Linked DNA regions of Homo sapiens. The protein of the gene in region 2 purifies or fractionates together with the protein of the main gene of each other region. This does not show direct contact. Each region holds a gene or a part of one and is shown on either strand. Other genes may lie near its edges. The genes, in order: UTP4, GOLGA4, LIMD1 and SMYD2.

Region 1 (7,033 bases), on a different chromosome or scaffold from region 2:
CAGAGCCCTGAAACTAAGTCCCAGGTCGGCAGAGAGGAAAGCCAAGAAGCCACCTGATTTATACTATGGAATCCTTGGACTCAGGAATTGGGGACCCCAGATATTCTAGAAAAGGAGTAAGTGGGGCTTCAAAGAGGGATCCGTTAACAGCTGGTAGACCCCTCAGATAGCCATGCCCTGACTAAGAAGGTGGGAAGCTCCCAAAATGCACGTCAGCAGAATACTGGAGACGTTGTCTGAGGAGGGCTATCAGGCAGAAGCAGTATATGAAAACCAGGATTAAGTGAACATTTCTCACTGAATGTTGAGAACACCATTCTTTTTTTTCCCCTTAGAATGCTGATAGCCAGGCCAATACTCACCAGGCAGGAGAATGAAAAACCATTTCTGAGGAACATAACTGACACAAAAGAAAAGATCTGAAGATTCTGGCTTCAGGGCTACCCCAAATAAGCAGTCCAGCCAGATCATTCTTCAGTGAAACCCAAGCTCAGTAAGCCACATGATGCAGTGATGAGATGATCACCAGACATGAGGAAAGCCTTTAACATGAAAGGCAGAGGCCAAACGGACTAACAGAAACAAATAAATGAATAACAGGGAAGAAACAGGCAGAGTGAAAAACACTTGACAATTATTAATAGCCTTAGAGAAGAGTTTCGGGGTGAGGGGAGGGGGGAGGGATAGCATTAGGAGATATACCTAACGCTAAATGACGAGTTAATGGGTGCAGCACACCAGCATGGCACATGTATACATATGTAACTAACCTGCACATTGTGCACATGTACCCTAAAACTTAAAGTATAATAATAATAAAATAAAATAAAATAAAAAAAGAAAGAGAAGAGTTTCTGTATAATGAAACATAAAGAGAATGCTGTAAAAAAGAAGATTCACGAAAAAAAAGAACTCTGGAAATGTCAAAAATGAAAAACTCAATAGAGGATTCAAAGATAAAAAAGACAAACTCTCCCAGAAAGCATAGTAAAAAGACAAAGAAATGAAAAATAAGAGTAAAAGAATTTCCCCCCAGAACTGAAGGACGTGGGTATTGGATTAGAAGAACCTACCAGGTGTCCAGAACAATTAATTGATCCACATACCAAGAAACCTAATTATTACATTTCATAACAGTAAGGATAAAACATCCTAAAAGCTCCTGGGGGAAAAAAAAATAAAACAGGTCCTACACAAAGGGATAACTCTCAGAATGGCAGCTTACTTGCTAATAATACGAGGAGCTGGAAGACAGCGGAGCCAGGGCTTCAGAATTCTAAGGGAAAAGAATTTCCAACCTAGAATTCTTTCTCATGCACTCTTACTCAGGATCCACCAAAGGGTAAACCAAGAAAGTGAATAACACAGAAATGGGAGATCCTATCCGATAGAGAAGCAAAGGAGATCCCGAGAACAATGGAAAAATCAATCAGAGTTTCAGATCTCACAGCTGTGCAGCAGGCCCAGAGTGGCTAAGCCAGATGGGAGTGGGTCAGAAGGCACCGGGAGGGACTTATTCACAAAGATAAAAGTGGAGAAAGAAAATCAGATGGACTTGAACCTAATTTATGCAACTGGAAAAATGTGGGAATGTATCAGTAAGACAGAGAGACAGAGACACTATTAAACAATAAGTATACCGGAAAAGAAAGAAAATTTACTATGTGAGTAGTATATACATAGTCATAATAATGAAAACATCAATTACTAATTTGAACAAAGTTATAATATAACCATACTGGGAGGATCGGGAGGAAGTGTGGATGCCTGTGGCAGACGGTAGAAAAAGAGGGGCAAGTTGCAGAAGTCAGTAAAAAATGGTCTAAAGCTGAAAAATCAAAATGTAGCATAAAAAGCATGCTAGGATCTGCAGTGATAGATACCAAAAGAATCAGCTAAGGGTCACAAGTGGTTGCCTCGAGGAGAGTGAGAGAGATATAGAAGGACTCCCTCTTTTTTGTAATAAGCTTAAGGGATTTTTTTTTTTTGAGACGCAGTTTCACTCTTGTTGTCAGGCTGGAGTGCAATGGGGCGATTCTCCTGCCTCAGCTTCCTGAGTTGATGGGAATACAGGCATGCACCACCACCCCGGCTAATTTTGTATTTTTAGTAGAGACAGGGTTTCTCCATGTTGGTCAGGCTGGTCTTGAACTCCCGACCTCAGGTGATCCACCCACCTCGGCCTCCCAAAGTGCTGGGATTACAGGCATGAGCCACCGCGCCCAGCCAACCTGTTTTATCTCTGCATCTCAGACGGAAATACAGACATGTCCACCTAACAAGTTGAGATCAACCCTATCAATGAAGGATTCTATGAAGCCAATTTTCCAGGCCAAGAACAGAAAATATCATGGTTCTCTGCTTTTCTGATCTCATGTTTCACCAATTATGCTACAAAAATCTTATGTTCCTCAATGACAGAAGCCCATTTTTACCAAGGACTGGGATCTATAAATAGGTAATTCTACTGTTTATAGTACACGAATGTACTAGTTCAGAGTATTTTATTGTGAATTCTTATTACGATGAATGAAAAATACTATATCTTACTGAAGATCCAAGATTCCCCTAAAAGCAGTGGTAGTAATCCAAGAAAGGAGTAAAATTAATTGTGGACATCTCAGAAGATTAATGACATGTTAGGCCATAAAGGTCATGAAACCATGACAAAGGCTCAAGCTTTTGAAAACTCAGAAATGTGAATCTGACAAAACCCACACCCCAAATGAACTGAAAAAAACAATCACCTGATTTGACATCAAACACACTAATGTAGTCTATGGAACCAGCTGCAATGTGGGTACCAGAGGGATGCCAGCTGAGACTCAGGATGCGACCTTGGGAGTTGGACAACAAAAAAAGAAAGTGACATACACATAAATATACGAAGAGTAACTGAGCTCTCTTCCCACAACTATCTCTAGAGTGTTCTACAATCTTAGCTCTCTCATCTATAGTACTCCTTGAAGCACCATTTTATTTATTTATTTATTTATTTATTTATTTATTTATTTATTTATTTTTGAGACGGAGTCTCCTCTGTCGCCCAGGCTGGAGTGCCGCAGTGGGATCTCGGCTCACTGCAACCTCCGCCTCCCAGGTTCAAGTGATTCTCCTGCCTCAGCCTCCCTAGTAGCTGAGATTACAGGCACCTGCCACCATGTCTGGCTAATTTTTGTATTTTTAGTGGAGATGGGGTTTCACCATGTTGGCCACGCTGGTTTCGAACTCCTGACCTCAAGTGATCCACCCGCCTCAGCCTCCCAAAGTACTGGGATTACAGGTGTAAGCCATCGTGCCCAGCTGAGACACCTATTTTCTATTTCATACTTGACAAAATGTATGAGATTTTTAAAAAGCATTGTATTACCTTTGTAATTGAGAAAGAACACCCAGGCCGGGTGCAGTTGCTCATGTCTGTAATCCCACCACTTCAGGAGGCCGAGGTGGGTGGATCACGAGGTCAGGAGGTCAAGACCAGCCTGGCCAACATGGTGAAACCCCGTCTCTACTAAAAACACAAAAACTAGCCGGGCATGGTGGCACGCACCTGTAGTCCCAGCTACTAGGGAGGCTGAGGCAGGAGAATTGCTTGAACCCAGGAGGCAGAGGTTACATTGAGCCAAAATCACGCCACAGCACTTCAGCCTGGGCGACAAAGCAAGACTCCATCTCAGGAAAAAAAAAAAAAAAAAAAAAAAAAGAGCACCCAAGATATATTAAAAACGAAGCAAGAATCTGATTAGCAGAGGATAAGTATTACTAATGGACACAGAGGACATTTGCTATTCTAGAAGATGGGTCACCAAACTGTGGCCCACAGGCCAAATCAGGCCCACTGCTTGTTTTTGTAAATAAAGTTTTTACTGGAGCACAGCCTGCCCATTAGTTTCAGTATCGTCTATGGCTGCTTTTGCACTACACTGACAGAGTTGGCAGACAATGTAGGTTTGGCAAAGCCTAAAATGTTTACTATCTGGTCCTTTACAGAAACAGTCTGCCAACCCCTGTTCTAAAGGGTCAATGCCAATTCAGCCCAGGTGGAGCCCAAGGATGGGCAACTGTTTATAAACTCCCTCATTCAACTTGAATGCACCAGAAGGATTAAGAACCACAGTTCCTTGGCCAGGGCAAGTGGCTCAGGCCTGTAATCCCAGCACTTGAGGCCAAGGCAGGTGGATCACTTGAGTAAGACCAAGAGTTCGAGACCAGCCTGGCCAACATGGTGAAATCCTGTCTCTACTAAAAATACGAAAATTAGCAGGGCACGATGGCACGTGCCTGGAATCCCAGTCACTTGGGAGGCTGAGGCACCAGAATCACTTGAAGCCGGGAGGCGGAGATTACAGTGAGCCGAGATCATGCCACCGCCACTGCCAGCATGGATGACAGAGTGACACTCTGCCTCCAGAAAAAAAAAAAAAAAGAAAGAAAAGAACCATAGTTCCTAATGACAAAATTGTAGTTCAAGACTTCATGTACGCTTGTTAAAACATCACAAAAGTAAGTGATAACTAACAAATTGACTTCCACAGAAACACTAGCTTTCCAATTTTGGATTTCTGGTTTTCTATATTATTACTTAACCAAGCAGTCACAACTATGCTATACAATGGGTAAAGCCTGGGCTGGGGATGGCTTCTAGCACATACCCTCCCTGTACCCAGTAGAGATAAAATATTACCTGGATTCATGGGAAAATATCCCATCCCCAGTGGCACAGAAACTTAATTTCTTGTTAAGGCTATTTACCGCCCCATGAAAAATGACGCTTACTTTTCTGCCGATCAAAATTTCTTTCAAACTGGATTTTGTCTGGGGTAATTTGAAATAGTTTCACAGATCCATCTTCACAACCAACCTATTTGAGAAAGAGGTAGTAAACAGAAAAAATCAATAGTAAACATTTTATAGGACTAAACACACACACACACCCCCCAACACACACTCTCTCTATTCTCTCTTCCTCCTTAAAGCTATCAGTTGCCGTGAAAAAGAAAAATCATTTGTGAGAGAAAGTACTAGTTATCAAGAAACTAATAGTGTATTCTCAGTAGCCTTCATATCCTAGACAGAAAACAGACTGATATTAAGAGTTCTAATTAGTGGCCCCATTCCTCTGTATGACATGGATTAGAAGTAGGATTTCATAGAATACTTCTGCTAGAGACCCTTGGCCTAAATAAAAGACCTACTAACATTATAACCTAAATGGAAACACCTTCAGATATCGTGCAAATTAGTGCAGATCAAAAATAATCAGACTCATCACAGAATTAAAGATCTGGAAGCACCCACTCTAATGGTAATTATGGGAAGGGGCTCAGTGTGTGGTCATATTTTTGAGAAACACTGGGCTGAAACACAAGTGCACAGGTTAACTTGCTGAAGGGACTCTCAGAACTCTTCATGTACCGATGTGCATTGTGAATTTACAGCAGGATTAAATATGCTGTATTTGTGAAATGAAATTTACCATAAAACACAAAACAAACCAAAACAAAAAAACCTCTACATCTCCAAATTCCACAGAACACAGTTTGGGAAATGTTGAACTGATGTAATCCTCTCATTTCATAAATGAATCAACAAGGTCCAGACTAGTAGCAAAAAGAATGCTGGGGATTTTTAAAATCTTCACTATCAATTCCAATCTTATAGTTGGGGTTGCCACATGCCATAATATATCGTTACTCTCCTATGAGCACAGGGAAGAAAGTCTGAGCAGGCACGAGAGAAATTTTGGTTTGAATTACCAATAGTTGCTTACTAACCAAAAGTTGAGAGCCACTGGGGCTGGCAGCCATGCTCCAAATAGGTCCTCCAAAGGCATCCATAGCATACTTGATGTTTAACGCCTGTAAATCATACTCCATAATCTCGCCATTGAGCCCAGCACTAAAGAGTCGCTGTCCTTCTGCCCAGCACAAAGCTTCTGTAGCCCGAGACTCATGACCTGGGAAAAACTGCAGAAACACCATAACTTCTCAACATTACCACAAATTCATCAGGTACCGGTACTGAGTGGTCACAGGCAACATGGTAAAAACAACTTCCCCATAAATAACTAGTGTGGGGTTTTGTGCTATCAGATCATGCCTAATGACATTTTCATTTTTTCAGCTCAAATTCTAATTACTTTTATACAGTTAAATTTGTTTCTTTTACTAGGACTAGTTCGGCAAAACATTTTCAGCAGAAAAGGTTTGAACTGCATTCCAGCCTGGACGACAGAGTGAGACACTGTCTCTACAAAAAATATAAAAAGTAGCCGGGTGTGGTGGCACACACTTATAGTCCCAGCTACTACGGAGGCTGACGGGGGAGGATTGTTTGAGCCTGGGAGGCGGAGGCTGCAGTGAGCCTTGGCCTCCCAAAGTCCTGGGATTATAGGCGTGAGCCACTGCACCCAACCCAAAAGTTTTCGTAGCTATCAAGGCATTTTATGCTTAGACCTGCTTGACGAAAAAGGAACTAAGTAGGTATAATTTTTCCTATTTCAACTTGAAAAGGCCAAGATATACATGGGTTAAGTAGGTTGCCAAAAGTGCCAAAGTCAATTGCATGAGGCAAATGAAGGTCTCCTTACTCCTAGCTCATATGCTCATATTCTTTCACTTTTTTGTTTTTTGGAGACAGAGTTTCGCTCTTATTGCCCAGGCTGCAGTGCAATGGCGCCATCTCAGCTCACTGCAACCTCCGACTCCCGGGTTCAAGCGATTCCCCTGCCTTAGCATCCTGAGTAGCTGGGATTACAGGCATGTGCCACCACGTCCCGCTATTTTTTTTTGTATTTTTAGTAGAGACGGGGTTTCTCCATGTTGGTCAGGCTGGTCTCGAATTCCCGACCTCAGGTGATCTGCCCACCTTGGCCTCCCAAACTGCTGGGATTACAGCCATGAGTGAGCCACCGCATCAGGCCCACTTTTATTTATTTATTTTTTTTGACACAGGGTCTCATTTTGTCACCCAGACTGGAGTGCAGTGGCACGATCTTGGCTCAATGTAGCCTCAACCTCCTGAGCTCAAGCGA
Region 2 (7,033 bases):
TCTACCACTATGTAGTTTTAGGGAAATTACTTAACTACACTGAACTGGCTTTTCCTTCTGAAAAACAAAAACAGAAAAAAAAAAAGTAGAACTAAACTAGCTTTACTGTATCTTCCAACACTCTCTAGGCATTCAAGAAATAATACTTTTTTTTTTTCATTTAGCACATATATCCTCTATGGAAGTATAAGAAAATGTGAAATTATTTAAATCTTTTCATAATGACATATAAAGCTCAAGAATTATAAAAGGTGGCATTTATAGGCATGTGTTATATCTTGGAATTCTAGCCATTTCAATTACATTTAAAATAATTATTAGAATCTGTTCCCGACTCAGACTTCTGCTGACATAGTCAGCTGAGGTATGATTCTTTGATTTATGAATTCTTAATCACCAAAAGATTCTTAGCATATAGTGAAATAAGGCTTAGAGCAACTACAGAATCTGTAACCCAACCAAGAACAATTTATATTGTATTACATTTGAAAACATTTTCAAATGTTAGTCCAAAGTACTAACTAGCATTTATGATTTATCTTCATGGTGTATCTTCATGGCTTATCTTATTTTGCTAATGGCAATGCATTAGTGGCATATTCTGTGAATTGCAACATGGCATTAGTAGAGTAAGTATTTTGAAATAACCTTCCACTAAATATAAAAGATTTGGCTTATGCATTCCATTTTTTCCCAGCTTTCTTCTCTTGAGACCAATCAACCTCCACACACTGGGTAGAGATAAGAGTAAAGTTGATTGTCCCTCCCAGAAAGATTCCAGCTAAGTTAAGCAGCCACATTTAAATACACACTCACTATCCCATTACTTAGACTTCACCGAAGCACAGGGTCTTGATTCTTAGTCTGGTTCCCCTCACAGTTCAGTCAGAATCTGTGAGGCAGATGGGAAAGAATCTATTCTTCCTTTTAGTATCTACTGTTGCTTCAATACTAGCAAGGGGACTGTGCTGCCTAGTTAGCAGAATCTCATCAGGAAACTACAATCCTGGCAGAAATCAACTCAACTTTATAAATCTGCATATAACAGTACTAATTTGAATAATATTGAGTCAAAAAAAAAAACCCTTTTCGTTCAAAAAACACATTTGAAAAGGAAATCTTTGGCACTACCATGAAATCTATTACAGCTAAATTTCAAAAGTGAGAGAGAAGAAATAAGGTACAAACATCAAGGATTTCTTCATATCTTTTGGCTGTTCGTTTTAGATCATCATCTTTCTCAGCAATTTTTTTAAGTAACTGATTTGTCTCTTCTTGATGGCTTTCTAAAAGTTCAGCCTCCACCTCCTGGGCCTTATCTAATAAATAAAAATGAACACACACAAGAAAACACATTAGTCAAGAGTTAATATTTGTATCTCAATTTCAGTAACAACTCTCATTCCAATTAATTTTGATGAAATTTAATTTTATATAAGCATTTTAAGATGTTTAATGAGACATCTAGCTCAACAGTGATCAAATGTATCCTCTCCCTGAGCAAAAGTGTCTTTACAAGGTAATTAATTAGCTAATACTTTCAGATTGTTTTACCTGCTCCCTCTCTCCTTAAGGTAAGTCATTGCCAAGCAGGGCAGGTTCCCATTAGAGAATGTTATTGGGCAAGGATTATTTCTTCCCCAGTTTAATGACTTAATGCACTTACCACCACTGCAAAAATGATAAGCTTAAATTATAGCCTCTGCTGATATAATTGTTCCTTATGGAACTTAATTTTACTTACTGATAGTTTCTTTTATGGTCATTTCCAGCTCTTGTTCCTTTTGTGCCAGCTGTGTATTAAACTCCCTCATCAGCTGTTTTAATGTGGAATTGTGCTTCAGTTCAAGATCTTCCTGCTCCTGTCTGAGTAATAAAAATGTACCGTTAACTGCTGCCACACAAAGAACAAGCTGCAAGGAGCTACCTGGTCTTTAAAACAGTGCATACAGTATGAGTTCATTGTATGAAAACATTTTTGAGAGAGAGAGAGAGAGAGAGTGTGAGAGTGAGTGTGTGTGTGTGTGTGTGTGTGTGTGTGTGTGTGTCCAGGTACATATCAACTATGATTACCTCTAAGTAGTGGTCCTGGGGACCAGAGAATTTTTGTTTTCCACTTTAATTTTTTTTTCAAAACACATCTATGTTATATAATAATAATGCTAATACTAAAAACAACAAAACAAAAAGAAAATAATTACTTGGATATGTCCCTAATAACCAGAATCTTATATGCAAGAAAAGGTTTTTCTCTCCTAAATGGACATGGAATAACACTGCCACTTGCCCTAAATTGTTTTTATTTCTCCTCATATTTAACATATTGGATTTATGTTTAATATTTTGGGTTGGTGAAACTTATCCAAATAATTTAAAATAACTGTATTAGGCACAAAAAAAGGAGACTTAATTAAGAAGGACTGCCATAAAAATATTCAAGCTGAAATAAAACTTACTTGATTTTCTCTTCCCTTTCTTGATCATATTCTTTCTTTAGTATTTCCAATTCTTGCTGATGCTCCTTTCTCAACATTCGAAGGTCTTTCTGCAATCTAACAATCTCCTTGCCCAGTTTCTGTTTCTCCCGTTCTGCCCCGGCTAATTTAAACTCCAGATCATTGTGCTGGGCTTCCATGTTACTAAGCAATTTGGGTTGGACCAAATGTGATTTGGACTTTTCTTCAGTGTTTTCTTCCAAAAGTTCTGTGGGTTTATTTCTTCCATCCATCTGTTGTAAAGCCTGTAATTTTTCATATTTTGAGGTCAACTCTTCCATTTCAACTCTATGTACTTCTTTCTGTCTTACTAAGCAGGAATCCAGCTCTTTTATCTTTTGCTCCAAAATCTGACAGGTTAGTTCCTTCTCCTGGAGGGTTTTCTGGACGTCGTCAAACACATTTTCCAAGTTTTGCTTTGCCTGTATGTTATTTTTACCTCCTTCTTTTTCCACATGCTGGGCTACTATCAAGGAATATTTCTTGTTTTTTTCTTCAAGCTCCTCTTGAAGATGACCTATCATACTTTGATCTTCATGTTGCTTTGCCTCAGCATGTTCTAGCTTTATTAAGCGCTCCTGGTATTGGCATCGCATTTCAAAATGAGAAGAAACTGTCTCTTCTTTTTCCTGCCCTACCCTCTGCAATAGCTTTTCTTTTTCAGTTAAGTTTCTTTGTAAAACACTGATTTTTTCTTCATATGTCTTCTGCACACAGCCTTGGGAATCTGCTTCTTCTTGTTCAGTATATGCTGCCACATTTTTTGCTGATCTGGGTACAATTAATGTTTCTGACTGTGAACTTTCCACTGACTTAAGTTTTTCTTCCAAGATGTGAACTTCCCTTTCTCTTTCCTGCAATTTTGTATTTAGCTCACTCAAATGGCTTTCTGTACCTTTTTTATACTGTTCTTCTTTCTCTTCCATTTGAGATAACAACTGCTTCTTAATGGCAGCAATTTTTTGTTCAGCTTTTCTCTTCAACTCTGCTAATTTTGCAGCACTTTCTGACTCAAGCCTATCTTCCAATGCCTTTAACTCCTCCTCTTTGCTTTTCACACTTAAATTCACATGTTCTAATTCTTTCTTCTTAGTTTCAAGTTCAGCTTTCATGGAATAAACTTGGTTTTCAAGTGTTAAGATTTTTTCTTCAGCTTCTTTAACCCTGTTGTCCTTTTCTTCTCCTAACTCTTGAAAATGTTGAAGTTTCTGAACCAATTCTTTGTGTTCAATATCCTTTTGTTGATTGTAATTTTTAAGAACTTCATTTAAGGACTCTATTTCAATAGTTTTCTGGGTAATATGGTCCTCTAATTCCATAATTCTTGCTGTTTGAGACTTTAACTCTGTTTCTAAATTAGACTCCTTTTTCTCCATCTTGCTCTTGTCGTCTTCCATTTCACCCTTTAAACAATCAAATCTTTTATTTTGCTGATCAAGCTCTTCCTTCAATAAATTTATCTGCTCATCCTTTTCATAAGCTTCCTTTGATTTTAACTCAAGCTGGATCTGCAATTCTTTAACAGTGTTTTGATGCTGTGTAAATCTTGACTGTGCTTTCTTCTTCCATTCTGAGAATTTATTGGACCAGTCATCTACCTGCTCAAGAGCAGAAATTTTCTCTTTACTCAGAGTGTCAACTTTAAAAGATAAATCTTGCACCTGATCCAGCAATTCACATTTTTCTTCATCATACTGCTTTCTTAGTGATGAAATGGCTGCTTCTTTTTCGGATAGGCTGATGCTATTTTGAAGCTGAACATTCAAATCAGTTAGTTGTTTACTAAGACTGCTAATCTCAACTTTTTTTTCTTTAAGCTCTTCTTTCATCAATGTGACAGCATTGATGTTTTCAGATAACTCTTTCTTCAACTGTGTTATACAAGACTCCTTTTCAGAAGCAGCCTGTTGCTGATTGCCTCCTTCCTTCTGTAAGGCTTCTTTTTCTGTTACAAGACTTTCAATATCAGCCTTCATGCTCTTAATTTGATTTTCTTTTTCTTCTAACTGATGAGTAGCCTGTTGAAAAGAAATATTTAGTGTATTTTGCTCCTCTGTCAACTGTCTAAGTTGTGCTTCTAATTCAGAAACTGTGCAAGTTTTAATTAACAGTGCCTCCTTAACTTTAGTTGTACGGTGCTGACAATGAGAAATCCTAGAAAGAATGGCATTAGTTTTACTACTACTAATGTTGATTAGCTCATTTGTTTTAGCTTCTAATAAGGCTTCGGTTTTCTTACAGCAAATATCTAGCTGAATCGCTAGTTCCTCAGACAGTTTTTTAAATTCCAAGCTCTTGTCCTCTAGGCTTTTGTTACTTTTTTCATGTGAAGATTTCAAACTCTGGAATTCTTCATCTGTGGTTTTCAACTTGCTAGTCAACTCAGAAACCTTCCGCTTATCTTCTTCTGCCAGCATCTTCAGTTCAACTAGCTGCTCTTGAAGAAAAGTATTTTCCTTCAGAGACTTATTCAAGTCAACCTCTAGCTTTTCAAGATGAGCTTTCAGTTTAGTTTCATCTTGTGCAAGAGAATTCACATGGGCAGACTTCTGCTTTAACTGTTCCTGTAATTCATTTAATGTTGTATCCTGCTTAACACCTTCTTCCTTCAGCCATGTTATTTCCTTGTTCATCTCTTCTTTTTCACACCCAAATAGGAGGATCTTTTGTTTCAGTTCTGCTACCTCTTGTTCTTTTTCCTGTAATTGGATTTCATGTATTTCCTGAAGTTCTTCAGCTTGCTGATTAAGTTTCTTTTCCCAGATTGATATGACATCATTGAGTTCTCGTCGATGAACCTCAGTAAGACTTTCTATTTGTTCTTTTTGGTTTGTTTCCAGTCTTGACACTGCATCACTGATTCCAGCTGAGTTAGCCTGTGCCATTTCCAGCATTTTGGCATTAAACTGTTTTTCTTTCTGACTAAGCTCTAGAGCAGTATTTTCAAGCTCTTTCTTAAGTTTGGCTTCCTGATCCAGTAATTTTTTCTTTAACGTTTCTTGCATCTCCTTTGCTTTCTGCTTAACTTTTTCCATCTTTTTTTCTTGGTTTTTAAATTTGGTTTCATATTCCTCATTCAAAATATGAATACTGTCCTCCTTGGCTGACAATTTCTGTGTGAGTATCTCAATTTCTTTCTTCTGTCCTTCTCTCATTTGTAAAATCATATTTTCCTTTTCCACCAAGATTTGCTTTGTCTGTTCCTGTTCTTTGTTACCATCTTCAAGTTTGGACTCATAGACTTGGGTTAAAGATTTTACTTTTTGCTCCATTTCACTATTTTGTTTTTCAAGTTGCTGCATTAAGTCCTGCACCTGGATTTTGTGAGCATCTAACTCAGTACAAACATCTTTCTTTTGTGCTTCAACTTCAGCAACCTGTTTGGTAAGAAGAATTCTTTCTGTTTCCAAATCCAACAACTTCTGCTGCAATTGGGCCAACTGTTCCTCATATGCTTTTGTCTGCTCATGTGTGGCACTCTGGTAAGACTGAAAAACGTCCAGCTTAGCAGATGCCTGCTGGAGTTCCCCTTCAGACCTTTTAATATCTGCCTCTAAATTTTCTACATGAGCCTGATGCTCTTTCAAATGCTTGTCCCTTTCCTTCAAGAGAAGCTCAAGTTGATTAATTTGATCTTTTAATGCCTTCTCAGTCCTCTGGATAGATACCTCGTGTTCTTTAATGATACTGTCAACTTGCTGCTGGTGATGATTTTTCTGTTCATCCATCTTGGCCTCTAATTCCTGCTTCATTTTATCTGTTTGATCTTTCAGAACAGAAAGTTCCTCTTCTAGTTTGTGACGGGCTTTTAATACTTCTGACAGTTCAGAAGATAATGATTCTAGTTCTGTTTGCTTCACATCAAGCTTTTCTAAAGTCTTTTCATTCATTTCTTCTATGTGGGCCTGGAAGATAATCTCTTTGTCTTTCAACAATGTTTCTTTTTCTTGTTCACACTTTTCCCTAAGTTTTTCCATTTCAGTCTGATATTGTTGCTTTAAGACTTGGAGTTTTTCAGTCCAAAGGGCATCCTGCTGATGCTTAAGGCTTTCCAATTCTGTCTTGTGTTTTTCAACCATGACTGTAATCTCCTTATTGTGCTTATTTTTTTCAGCTTCCAGATGAACAGCCAAATCTTTTGACTGATTTTTGTTTTCTTGTAAGCTTTTTTCCAAAGAACTTTCCAATTCAAGAATTCTCTGTTAATTAAAAACAGATGCATTTTTATTAAAGTACGTACTTGTCTACTAACAATGATACACAGACATGATGTCTACCACCTACCTGAAGATCAAAATTATCATACCAAACACTAGAAAAGACAAAGAATCTATGCTCAATTACTAAAGGAATCATATAACAAAGAAAAGATTATGGCAAGGCACAGTCCAACAGTTTGGGAGGCCGAGGTGAGCAGATCACTTGAAGCCGGGAGTTTGAGACCCAGCCTGACCAACATGGCAAAGCCCTGTCTCTACCAAAACATACAAAAATTAGCCGGGCATGGTAGCATGCGGCTGTAGTCCCAGCTACTCGGG
Region 3 (7,033 bases), 8.3 Mb from region 2:
CCCTTCCCCAAATCGCACACCTGCCTGACAATGTGGCCCGCAGATAGGACCTGAAACCCATGCTCTCCACGACCCTCCTAGCTCTGCAGCTTCAGGGAGAGCAGCTCCAACAGTTGCAGGACTTGATAGTTCTGAATATGCAGAAGAAAGACCTTTATACCTTGAGCATTTCCATCTTCTCCTACCTCCCCCAAGAACCAGCCTTCATTCCATTTCCTACAGAAGCTCTAGAGGGCTGACCCTTGCCAGAATCTTGTTGACTGCCTCTTGCCCCAGTCAACGCAGGATGCTTTTCTCTTGGATGTCTACAATGGGCTTTGGGGGCTGGGTGGGGAGGGGTCTACCTCGCAGTGGTAACACTCCACGTGGTAGTCTCTGTCCATGGACACGACACGGATGGTCTCATCTGAGCCCTGGGACCAGAGAAAAGCAAGAACACATAGGAGAGGCCTGTTAGGGGGGCTGTCGGGCTTGATGTACCGTGGGGTGGGGAGGGAAGAGGGTTTTGGGGGTAACAAGTAGGTGGCCTTGGGAGGAGAAGGTAAATCAGGAGTACTTACTGGAAGAAGAATACATTTAAGCTGATGAGAGGGGAAGTAGGAGGGATAGGAGTCCTTCCTTCTAGAATGTCAGAGTTAACACTGAAAGAAAGACCTACATGGACACTTATTTTAAAAAATGAAGAAAAGACAAGCCTTTCTCCTCATCTGCTAATCTAAGAATTAGTATCAAGTAAGGGAGTTTGACCTGGTTATGGGGACAAATCAGCACAAGAAGGGTACTGGGTTGGGGAAGCCAGTCAACAAGGAAGGGTGAAGACACGACTTATCTCAAAGGTGAAGTGGGGTTTTTTTTGGTTTTTTTTTTTTGGAGACAAGGTCTTGCTGTCACCTGCTGGAATGCAGTAGCACCATCATAGCTCGCTGCAGCCTCAAACTCTTGGGCTCAAGCAGCTAGGACTACAGGCACATGCCACCACACTTGGCCAATTTTTAACAATTTTTTGTAGAGATGAGGTCTTGCTATGTTGCCCAGGCTGTTCTTAAACTCCAGGCCTCAAGCAATTTTCCTGCCTGGGCCTCCTAAAAGGGGTGGGATTACAGGCGTGAGCCACTGCACCAGGCCAGAGTTGAGATTTTTAAAAGGATACCTTAAAAGCTGTAAGGACAGGACATGGATCTTGTAAATGAGCCCAGGGAGATATTCATGTCTTAGAAGCCCCTGGGAGCATGTCTGGAAGGGCATCTTACCTCAGGTGGAAGGATGGGAAGCCCACAGGCTGCACACTTGGGGGCCAGCACCCTGTGGGGAGAAACAAAGCAGCAATAAATGTTGCTTCTGGGAGCAAATTCCAGAGTCAGACTTGCACTTGGAATCCACATGGAGCCTTCCTCCATGCCGCCTCCTGCCCCTTGCTCTCCTCCCTCATAGAATGACTGGTACCTGGCTCACTTTGTGGAATATGCCTTAGTATTTGCTCCCCAGCTGCAATGAGGACACTGGCTGCCTCTCACTCTTCTGGGGACAGCACTAACTGATTTGTTTACACCTCTCATGGTGCCTAGCACAGGCCCAGGCAAACCAAGAGTGGTAGGAACCAGCACTGCATAGGGGCCTTGTGAAGTTAGGTAACGCTGAAGCCACAGGGCTTGGTGGATTCCTCCCGAGGCCTAGCTACAAATATGATTATTAGTTTTTCTGTGCTCTGTTGTTTTTTTTTTTTCACTAAACATGATTCTTTAACCCATTCCTGTCAACACTGGCATCGACCAACCTCCCAAGGTCCCTGCTGTACCCCTCAAAACCATTAAGCCTTTGCTGGACTGTGATCTAAGGGCGGCTGGCAAACACAGTTTTGTCGGTTTCCACCACTCACTCTGCTGAGATCAGCTTGGCCTACACGAATGGGTCCTGTCTGCTCCCATCCCTTCTTACTTGTGGTAATCTCGGACACAGTAGATCTTGTTCTCTGAGTCCACGGTGAAGGGCACCCCATCCAAACACTCATTACAGATGACACAGCGGAAACAGCCGGGGTGGTAGGACTTCCCCAGGGCTTGCAGGATCTGGAGCAGAGACCAAGACTCAGTGGGGATTATAGGGAAGGATGAGATGGTGGAAGGGGAGAGGAACACATCAGGCCTAAGGATTACATGAGCAGTCACACACAGAGTACACTTACCCCCGAGTTTCACCTAGGAGAAGAGCAAGAGGTGATGGGGTGGGAAAGGCAAATCTGTTTAGATGAATACACAGAAGAGACCACACAGGAATCCTTCTCCTGCAGCCTCTCACAGGGTCTCTGAGCTGGCAGGGAAAGAGGGCTCCTTTCCAACCCTCACCCAGAACAGGAAACTCTTGCATAGTTCTTTAAGAGAAAGAGATGGTAAGGAAGGGATGGGCCAATCCCAGGGCCAAAATCCACCACGAAGAAGTGGGAAACGATGCAAAGCAGGGCCACAGAAGGATACATCCTTCCCAGATTTGGGAAGCAGCAAGTACTCGGAAAAATGAAAAGAAATTCCATGTGGAAATGGCAGAGCTCAAAAGGAACCCCTTCACTTCTGCCTCTTGGATGCCCCTTCTATGCAGCTTTGACTCTGGAGCATGATAATCTAGAAGTTCTGACTCAACCCAATGACCTCAAATCCAAGTGTAATAAGTAAAGTTTCTCTGTTGTTGTTTTTAAACGCAATAGAGGGAAAGCCCCACAAACTTCTTCCTCTCAGTGTCATTTAATCTGGATCTGGATGGGATACCTGGAACTGCCAGAGCCAACCTGAAACCAGGACAGACCCAAGACATGGACAGCAGGAAAGAGAAGAGATGGAAAGAACATCCTTGGTGAGGTCCGTAAGTAACTGAATTAACTCATCATGGAACCACATACCTCCAAGCCTCTTTTTAGGTGAGATAAAATATCATTCCTATGAAGTCAGTGGTCCTCGAAATGTGTGTGGCCCCAGACCTTCAGCATTAGCATCACCTGCAAACTTGTTAATAATGCACATTCTTGGACCCCATCCCAGATTTCTTGAATCAGAAACTCTGGGGGTAAGGCCCAGCAGTTGGTATTTTAATAGGGTGATTCTGATATATATTAAAGTTGGAGGATCATTGGTTTAACTCGAACTGAGTCTGGGTTTTTTCTATAATTTGCAGTTGAAAGCATCTTCACTGACTTAATAGGAGATTCATTTCTGCAATTACCTGCATCATGAAACTTAGCAAAAACAACTGAACTACAGAATCAACATGAGCAAGGTCACACCAAAACATGCATCTGCAAAGAATGTACAGAACGGTCATCAGCATCCAGCAGTGGGAGCCCACACAGAAAGCCTTCAAACAGGCTGAAGAAAGGGGATTTTGGATTTGGGGAAGCCTTGTCAGTACACTGTGAGACCCAGGGGTAAAGATATGCTGTGTTACAGCTCCTTCCCCTGGAAGCCTCAGGCGGATAACTCCACACTGCACAAGCTCCAGCCAAGAAGGCAAGAGGAGGGCGTTGTGCTATTCCAGCTTTCCTCTGAATGCTCAGCTTTCAAGCTTCCTCATTCCCTCTTGGGTTTCCCTAACCTTTGAGGGCCCTCTCAATCTGCAGTAAGGCAAAACAGGAAGAACAACTGGCTGGGCTTCCAAAACCCATTTGGCAATTTGGACCTTGGAATGCATTTTCCCCAAGATGAATGCTGTCTTGGCAGAAAGAGATCCTTAAATTAATTTAATCCACATTGTGCCTAAAGTAAGATTAGAAAAAGATGCCATTTTGCTGCATTGTGACTAGCTGTAATACTTTTTTTATGTGAGACTATGCCTGGTTCTAACCTGCAAGCCCAGAATGTACCCCTCTATTAACAAAAGGGTATATAGAGAGACAATTTACACAAAGAGTTAGACAGCTGGGGTTCTGTCTAGACATTCACTAAAAGTTTTCAAGTCCTAGGGAAGACCTGAAAGACTGAAGCTTCAACTTCATACTATCCCATATGGTAGAGATCTCACATCAAGAGATGGGGACTATTTCCCCCTCCCCTTGAATCAGAACTGGCTTTGTGACTTTCTTTAATTAACAGAAAGCAGAAGAAACAATGTTCTGAGATTTCTGAGTCAAAGGCTTAAGAAGACTGGTAGCTTCCACTTCCTATCTCTTGCTGTAAGGAAGTCTGAACTAGACTACTGAATGATTAGAGGCTACAGGGAGAGGGGCCTGGAGGGTGAGAGGTCATCTTGGATGTTCCAGTTCAACTGTGCTACCAGCTGAACAAAGTTAAGTAGGAGACCCCAGCCAATGCCACACAGAGCAGAAGAATTGGCCTGCTAAACCCTGACCTAAATCCTGACCCACAGCATGAAGCATGATGATAAATAAGAAATCACTATTGTTTTAAACTACAAAGTTTTAGGGTGGTTTGTCATGCAGCAATAGATAAATGACATACCCTGAGGTTATCCAAAGAAGTCTTAGGATTACTAGAACTAAGAATAGGGTATAATCATACTCATAAATTCAGAGCATGTTGACTTCATATGAAGTAGGTTTGTCAGAAGGACACTAAAAACAAAGGCAAATTCTGCTAAAGAAATAGAGCCCTACAGAGTCTAGAAGATACCTGGGAAGGAGAGGTAAGCATATGTAGCTTCTGCCTACCTCCCACTGCGAGCATGGGGGAAGGGCCACGTTTCCCAGGGAGGTCTTGGCTACTAATGAGGACATGGCTCTAATAGGGCTAAGACCTCTGCTGAGGTCTGTCAAAGCCTGGGAGATAGCAGATATTCATCACGAATGGGGAGGGCTGTGGGTCACTGATGTTTTATAAATATTAGCATATAACCAGCAGAAATGAGTGTTTATGTCCATCAAAGACATGTTCAAGAGTATTCACAGCAGCTTCATGCATAAATAGCAAAAAACTAGAAACCACCAAATCCCCATCAACATGAGATGGAGAAATAAATTGTGCTATATCCATACAATGGAATTCCACTTAGCAATACAAATCAATAAACTACCAATACAGGTAACAGCATGGATGAAGCTCAAAAACATATGTAATAAGACCTGAAAGAGTCTATACTATATGTTTCTATTTATATGAAGTTCCAAAACCAGCAAAATGAATTTCTGGCAATAGAAGTTGGAATAATGGTTGCCTTTGTGGGAGTGGGGTCTTGAGTGGGAATAGACAAGAAGGAACTTTCTGGAGTTTGGGAAGTGTTCTATATCTTGATCTGGGTGGTGGTTACAGGGGTATATGCACATGTGAAAACTCGTTCAGATGTACACTTAAGATTAGTATCTTTTACTCTATGAGTTATTTCTCAATAAAAAGGTAAAATTAAAAATACTAATAATTAGAAATTATCTTCTCTAGAATGAAATTAATGAGTCAGCTTAGAGAGGGACTTAACTGTTTCCAACTTAAAGTATGTTATATAATCATTTCCTCTGATCAGTATATTAAAGAACTTCTTAAAGGCTGGTTTCCAATGGTGAACAATTTGATGTTGTATTCATTAACCTCATAACCTAACCCTCTAGGGAAAAATTGTCCCCACTGAAGACCTGAAGCCCAAAATAACCTCAGAGAGCCAGTGACTGAGCAAAGAATGGAATGTATAAAACCTGGTCCTTGCTCTGCTGTCTCAGAACTAAATGACAGGCCCTAAAAACTCATCTTCGTAATGGTGTGAGCTGGGCATAACACAGGGAGAAAAACAACTTTGCTCCTCTGGCTTTCTGCATTTGACTCCAAGGTAGCTGAGATTTCTGCAGTAAAAACAGACTGTATTTAGCATCTCACCTGGGATGCCACAAGGATCACAGAGAAGCCAGAGGGAGGCCAGTGCGATTCAAACAGCCCAGAGGAGGAGAAAGCATTATCGGAAACATGATAGCGTGTGCTCTAGATGGTTAAAGATGTTAATTCCAATAAAAGCCAACAATGTGGGTTCTATTAGAACAAGCAAGCTGTACTTTACAGGGACTTTTTTTTTTTTTTTGAGGTGGAGTCTCACTCTGTTGCCCAGGCTGGAGTGCAGTGGCGTGATCTTGGCTCACTGCAAACTCCGCCTCCAGGGTTCAAACAATTCTCCTGCCTTGGCCTCTCAAGTAGCTGGGACTACAGGCATGCACCACCACGCCCGGAAAATTTTTGTATTTTTAGTAGAGACAAGGTTTCACCATATTGGCCAGGCTGGTTGGTCTCAAACTCCTGACCTCGTGATCCGCCCGCCTCGGCCTCCCAAAGTGCTGGGATTACAGGCATGAGCCACTGCGCCCAGCTGTAACCACAAATCAAGATAAGAAACACTGTCCTCAATTATTAATTTCTTTTTTCTCTGAACACCTCCTCCTCCACCTGAGATGCTGTTCTCTTCTTTGGCTGACCTACTCACCATGTCCATGATCAGATGTCCACAAAGAAAACACCTGTCAGCCGACTGCTGGAAACCAGAGTACTGCAGAAGAAAAAGAAAAGAAAGTTAAACCCAGACTGGTAAGATGAATCAGCCACTTCCCCAACAGCCAAGAGGATTATAAGGAATTTCTCAGAAAGATGTGTCACTCTGTGCAGAATTCTGTCATCCCCAAGTACAACACAGCTGTGGGCTGAGTCATAGAATATTCTCTGCCACGAAAGCCATCACAAATACTAGTACCACTCACTCTAACAATGACTGTGTCTGGGCACCCACAGCATGCCAGGCTCTATGTAAGGGACTGTATATAGAGATGCTTTAATCCCATCTCAGTGGTTCTCAAAGAGCAGTTCCCTGGCATCACTTGAAAGCTTGTAAAAAATGCAAATCCTTGGGCTCCACTCCAGACCTACTGATTTGGAAACTCAGGGGGTGGGTTCTGGCAATCTGTGTTTTCACAAGCCTTTCAGGGGATTCTGAAACCATCACTCTAATGCTTACAACAATTCTGCAAGGTCTACATTATTACCCAGAATCCTCAAATAGAAGCAGAGGGCAGCTCAGAGAGGTTAAGTGAACTTTTCAAGGTCACACAGCCAACAAAGGGTAA
Region 4 (4,506 bases), on a different chromosome or scaffold from region 2:
TGTTTACTCAACAACACAGCGTTGGTTGGTAAGGAAAAACATTTTTTTCCTTCCCAAGCATACCCTGGAGTTTTTCCAAAAAGGAGAGTACTGCACAGAACAATCAACAGAATGAGAGATGGCAAGTCTGCTTTCAGACAGATGGGGACAGAAAAGCCAAGAAAGCAAAGCACGCACTAAGCACCTTTACACACTGAAGGAATACCAGGCACCAGAGAACAGATTCAAAACCTCGCCTGCTGGAGGGCACTTGGGTCACTGGACTGTTCCTCCACCACAGATAGATGATAGTTTTCTTTCCTTCGTGTACCTTTTTCTCTTTCTTCCCATTTTCTTCCTCCACAGGCACAGCCCCACAAGAGCAACTGCAGAATAAAGAGGCTGCCCGACCCCAGTCCCATGGAGAAGACTTGAGCTTGCTGAATTATGGACAGCAGGTGTCACTTTCACTCCAAGACTGGGCTCCCACCACCACTGAGAAATCCTCCCCAGAGACAGAAGAAAATACAAACCTCAAATACTGATATCTCTTTAATACTTTCATCATTCAAGTTTGTTCAGAACATTACAAGAGGCATGAAAGAAAAAATAATTCCATTTTTAAAACTCTGTCTGTCCAAAGTATAACATATGAAACCATGCCATTATCTCTTAGGAAACAAAAGCATTCAAAATTAATTTGGTATTAAAGTTCAAGATTCAGACTAACCTCAAAGTACGGCATGTGCAGTGTTTAAGTGCAAGAAGTATTTTCATTCCAATTATTTTACAGAGATGCTGGAGTGACGTGTGCAATTTGAAATATTCAAATCCTTTAAGGTTTCTGAACTAAGTGTTTAAATGAAAACTGAAATGCTGCATAGTTTCAGTGGCTTTCAATTTCCTGTTTGATCTCAGAAATATATGGATGATCTTTGCCGTGAGCTACTTCCATGATTGCAATGGCCTAGGAAAAAGCAAGACAAACAATGAGAGCCTAGAAGCCAATCTCCTCACACCTCCACCCAGGGTAACTTTAAGTTGGATCTCTCTGCTTTAAGGCACAGGATGCAAACTGGCCATTAGAGCCTATGTTCTCCACCAGGACCTGTTTTTATTTTAATTTATTTATTTATTTTGAGACGGAGTCTCGCTCTGTCGCCCAGGCTGGAGTGCAGTGGTGCGATCTCCGCTCACTGCAAGCTCCGCATCCCGGGTTCACGCCATTCTCCTGCCTCAGCTTCCCGAGTAGCTGGGACCACAGGCGCCCACCACCATGCCTGGCTAATTTTTTGTATTTTTAGTAGACACGGGGTTTCACTGTGTTAGCCAGGATGGTCTCGATCTCCTGACCTCGTGATCCGCCCGCCTTGGCCTCTCAAAGTGCTGGGATTACAGGCATGAGCCACCGTGCCTGGCCTTGGTTTTTTTTTAAAAAAGGAGAAGACCATCTGGTAGCTAACTCATCCAGTGTCTACTGCTAGGTAAAACATTCTGCAAAAATATCCAGCTGGAGAAACGATGTCATGAAACTGATTTCATGACATTCTCTTGCCCCAAGATTCTAGATCTTTCAGTAAAACATGCTTTAAGGACTAATTTTTTTGATTATGTTCAACCCAGAAAATAGGTGATGCTGGTAAAGTCCATAGTGAATTTTATATCAAAGCTATTTTGATTTTTAGTTGACATTACTAACCTGCAAGACGTAGCTAAACTATTTTTCCCTTTCGAAAAGCATACTCTTTCCTTTTAATACATATTCTAAAAACTTAAAAGAAAGGTAGCAGGTTTCATTGAGGGATGCTAGAGAATGTACTTAAGGTTTCTTTATAGTGAGGCAATGTAACATGGTCAAGTTTCCAGTGGTTTAATCATTTCCTAGCTGTGTGGCCTTGGGTAATTTACTTAACCACTCTGTGCCTCATTTTCCTGAACTGTAAAACTGGAATAATACCTACCTCTCAGGGTTGTTAATTCAGATACAGTGTTTCGAACAGCGCCTGGCATACAGGAAGTTTATATCAAATGTCATCTCTAAGAATGTATTTGCTCTTTTGTATTCAGCCAAATTACTCAGAGAAAAAAGTATTCCCCCAGAGAATTTTTAATGGCCTGTGACTATGACAGGCATTCCTATCTATTATATATTCTCCTCCTAGATCTCAAGCCAAGAGGAGGCAGGCCAAGTAACAGTGCAAGCCTTCGGAAATCACCTGTTCCAGGTGCCGACTCTGCCCAGGCATTCATTTCAAGACTCATGTTCCTTGCTCAGATCTGCTCCAGCTTTCATTGATCTATTACTTAATCACCTGACACACTTTGCAGTTGTGACCCAAATGGCTAATTCTCAGAAGACAAATTCCATGGTTTAAAACAGAAAATTTTGTTCTGTGCTCCCTTCCAGCCTGGCTGTGCCCTGACCCTTCTATTTGGGATGTGGGCCTTATTCCATCTTCGCAAATAGTCTATTGGGAAACTTTGGAGAAGGTGAAAGATTAGGCCTGCAGGCCCTGTCCATGGCCCCAGCATTTTATAAAGTTTCTTACAGGAGTAAATGGACTATCCCCTAAATTACACTGTATTGACTGTGAATTCCACATCACAAACAATGAGAATCAATACTCAGGATGATGACTCTGACCTCCCATGATGTGAGGGTCGGGGCCTGGCTCCTGGGCAGCACAGGGCCGCCATCAAACCAAAGGCGAATGCTGCCCAGGGTTCTGGCTCCCCACCAGTTTCATCACAGCTTGAGTGGGAGGAGCCGAAGCTTTCAATTTAGACCCTCATTTGAATGAAGGCCCCACCATGTACCCTAGGCTATTACTCACTTAAACCTGCTTGAACCTCACTTTCTTCATCAGGAAAGCCTCTCGGTTTTGTGAGAATTCAAAGGAAAAGCACACGAGGGTCTTGGTATGTAACTGGTCCTCAATGAACTGAGAGGATGATTAAGTGCATTTTAGAAACAGCAAATGCGCAATTCTAACATCCTAACCCTAACTCTCCATATCCTACCTCCTTGATTTCACAACTGGGGATCATCATTCTGAAAATCCCAAAGGTCAAACAAATGGAGAATTCCTCCAGGCACAGGCTGGGCCTGTGATCACGGCCAGCCCTCTGGATGTGGGCACCCATTCCCTTTGAGGGAGGCCTGGACACAAACACAGCAGAGGTGCACTCTCTCACTCCCCCCTCACCTGCAGGACCCACCCCCGCTGCTCCCACGGCAAGAGGGTGGGTGAGAGCTGCTCACCCTCCACTGCTTCAGCCATTCAGCCTGGTGAGGCATGAAGGAGGTGCGCTAAGGAGGCCATCTGGCCACTGGGAATCCTAAGGCCGAGTTACAGACATACCTTCTTCAGGGCTTTCTCCCCTGCGGCTTTGTGTTCCAGGCCCATGTAGAGTCTCCCTAGCTTCAACCACATGGAGGCCACGTTGAGGGAGTACAAAGGATAGTGCTTACTAGAACAAGAGAAGAGACAACAGGCCACCATGTCAGCGGCTACTGAGCCGCCCCACAGGCTGGGTGCAGTAAGCCGGAGGCTGCCATGCTTAGGGCCAACCTCTGCCCACCAGCGGCCTCTCCAAATCCCACCAGGGTTTGGGTGGAGAGCGTGGATGCTGCCACCCTGCCGAATCATTGCAGATGTTGTTCATTATTTGTAGTTTGTGTGTTTCTGAAAAGCTACGTAACAACTGCAGGAGAAATCCTATTCAAAAGCATTTGTAAACACAATCTTCAATCCCAGTCCAGATTTTTATATTTCAGACATACCCAGAGGAAGACCCTGGGAAAACAGCTTGTGAAGTAAATGTCCCATTTATGAAGGCAGCAATTAGGCCTATCACCTTAGGTACTCAGACATACAGCCACCCACCCAACCCCCACCCACCCCAATGTGTCTTAAGACCCCAGCTTTCTGTCACACTATGATATGGGTTGGTTTAGCAAAACAGTTAAGTGCTCTGAAGTCAGAACACTTCCTGTGTCTTCTGGATGTTCTTTCCCCATTGTCCAGCAGGGGCTTTAGATACAGCAAGTGTTCTCTCCGGCTGTACCTGAAGACTGACTGATGGGGTCTGCCTGGGAAACAGCCATTTCCCTAAGAACAGGGCCCAGAGGCAGCTGGTGGGTGAGCCAGTGTGTGTGTTTACATGTGTGTAAGAGGTGTTTATTTAAAGGCTAGGCTGTTCCACCCTGTGTCTCCTGAAAGTCAGTCCAAAAAGACATGTTCTAGCTGTATTCCTGGGTAGGAGGCAGCCCTGGGACCCACGGCCCCACAGAAGACCAGAGCTGGGCTTCCGGGAGGGGCTCACGCAGATAAAGATGGGTCTAGCAGAGCAAGGCCCTGCTGGGAGAACCACAGGGCTGGGATGCTGTCTGTCTGCTCCTCTCTCCCTACAGATCTCACACAGAGAACTGCGCATGAGGCCAGTGCACTTCCTCACACACTCTAGGAGAAAAGGAAGGTTTGAGTTTATCCCCAATTTAACAAATTCTGTTTCCAAGAGCAGATT

What was found.
Region 1: the proteins of GOLGA4 (region 2) and UTP4 purify together in Homo sapiens (affinity purification with mass spectrometry; 3 studies listed by BioGRID and IntAct, with this or other methods). This does not show direct contact.
Region 3: the proteins of GOLGA4 (region 2) and LIMD1 purify together in Homo sapiens (affinity purification with mass spectrometry; 3 studies listed by BioGRID and IntAct, with this or other methods). This does not show direct contact.
Region 4: the proteins of GOLGA4 (region 2) and SMYD2 purify together in Homo sapiens (affinity purification with mass spectrometry; 3 studies listed by BioGRID and IntAct, with this or other methods). This does not show direct contact.

Annotation. Positions count from the first base shown.
Region 1 is NC_000016.10:69,135,629-69,142,661, reverse strand, and holds part of UTP4 (U3 small nucleolar RNA-associated protein 4 homolog), read right to left. Parts: intron 5,967-7,033; coding exon 5,775-5,966; intron 4,862-5,774; coding exon 4,777-4,861; intron 2,838-4,776; coding exon 2,748-2,837; intron 520-2,747; exon of another isoform or gene 472-519; coding exon of another isoform or gene 363-471; intron 1-362. UniProt on the Homo sapiens protein: Ribosome biogenesis factor. Involved in nucleolar processing of pre-18S ribosomal RNA. Part of the small subunit (SSU) processome, first precursor of the small eukaryotic ribosomal subunit.
Region 2 is NC_000003.12:37,323,249-37,330,281, reverse strand, and holds part of GOLGA4 (golgin subfamily A member 4), read right to left. Parts: intron 6,695-7,033; coding exon 2,457-6,694; intron 1,867-2,456; coding exon 1,745-1,866; intron 1,320-1,744; coding exon 1,189-1,319; intron 1-1,188. UniProt on the Homo sapiens protein: Involved in vesicular trafficking at the Golgi apparatus level. May play a role in delivery of transport vesicles containing GPI-linked proteins from the trans-Golgi network through its interaction with MACF1. Involved in endosome-to-Golgi trafficking.
Region 3 is NC_000003.12:45,667,723-45,674,755, reverse strand, and holds part of LIMD1 (LIM domain-containing protein 1), read right to left. Parts: intron 6,463-7,033; coding exon 6,400-6,462; intron 2,067-6,399; coding exon 1,936-2,066; intron 1,303-1,935; coding exon 1,251-1,302; intron 414-1,250; coding exon 345-413; intron 1-344. UniProt on the Homo sapiens protein: Adapter or scaffold protein which participates in the assembly of numerous protein complexes and is involved in several cellular processes such as cell fate determination, cytoskeletal organization, repression of gene transcription, cell-cell adhesion, cell differentiation, proliferation and migration.
Region 4 is NC_000001.11:214,333,144-214,337,649, reverse strand, and holds the end of SMYD2 (N-lysine methyltransferase SMYD2), read right to left. Parts: intron 3,451-4,506; coding exon 3,342-3,450; intron 947-3,341; coding exon 866-946; 3' UTR 519-865; downstream 1-518. UniProt on the Homo sapiens protein: Protein-lysine N-methyltransferase that methylates both histones and non-histone proteins, including p53/TP53 and RB1. Specifically trimethylates histone H3 'Lys-4' (H3K4me3) in vivo. The activity requires interaction with HSP90alpha.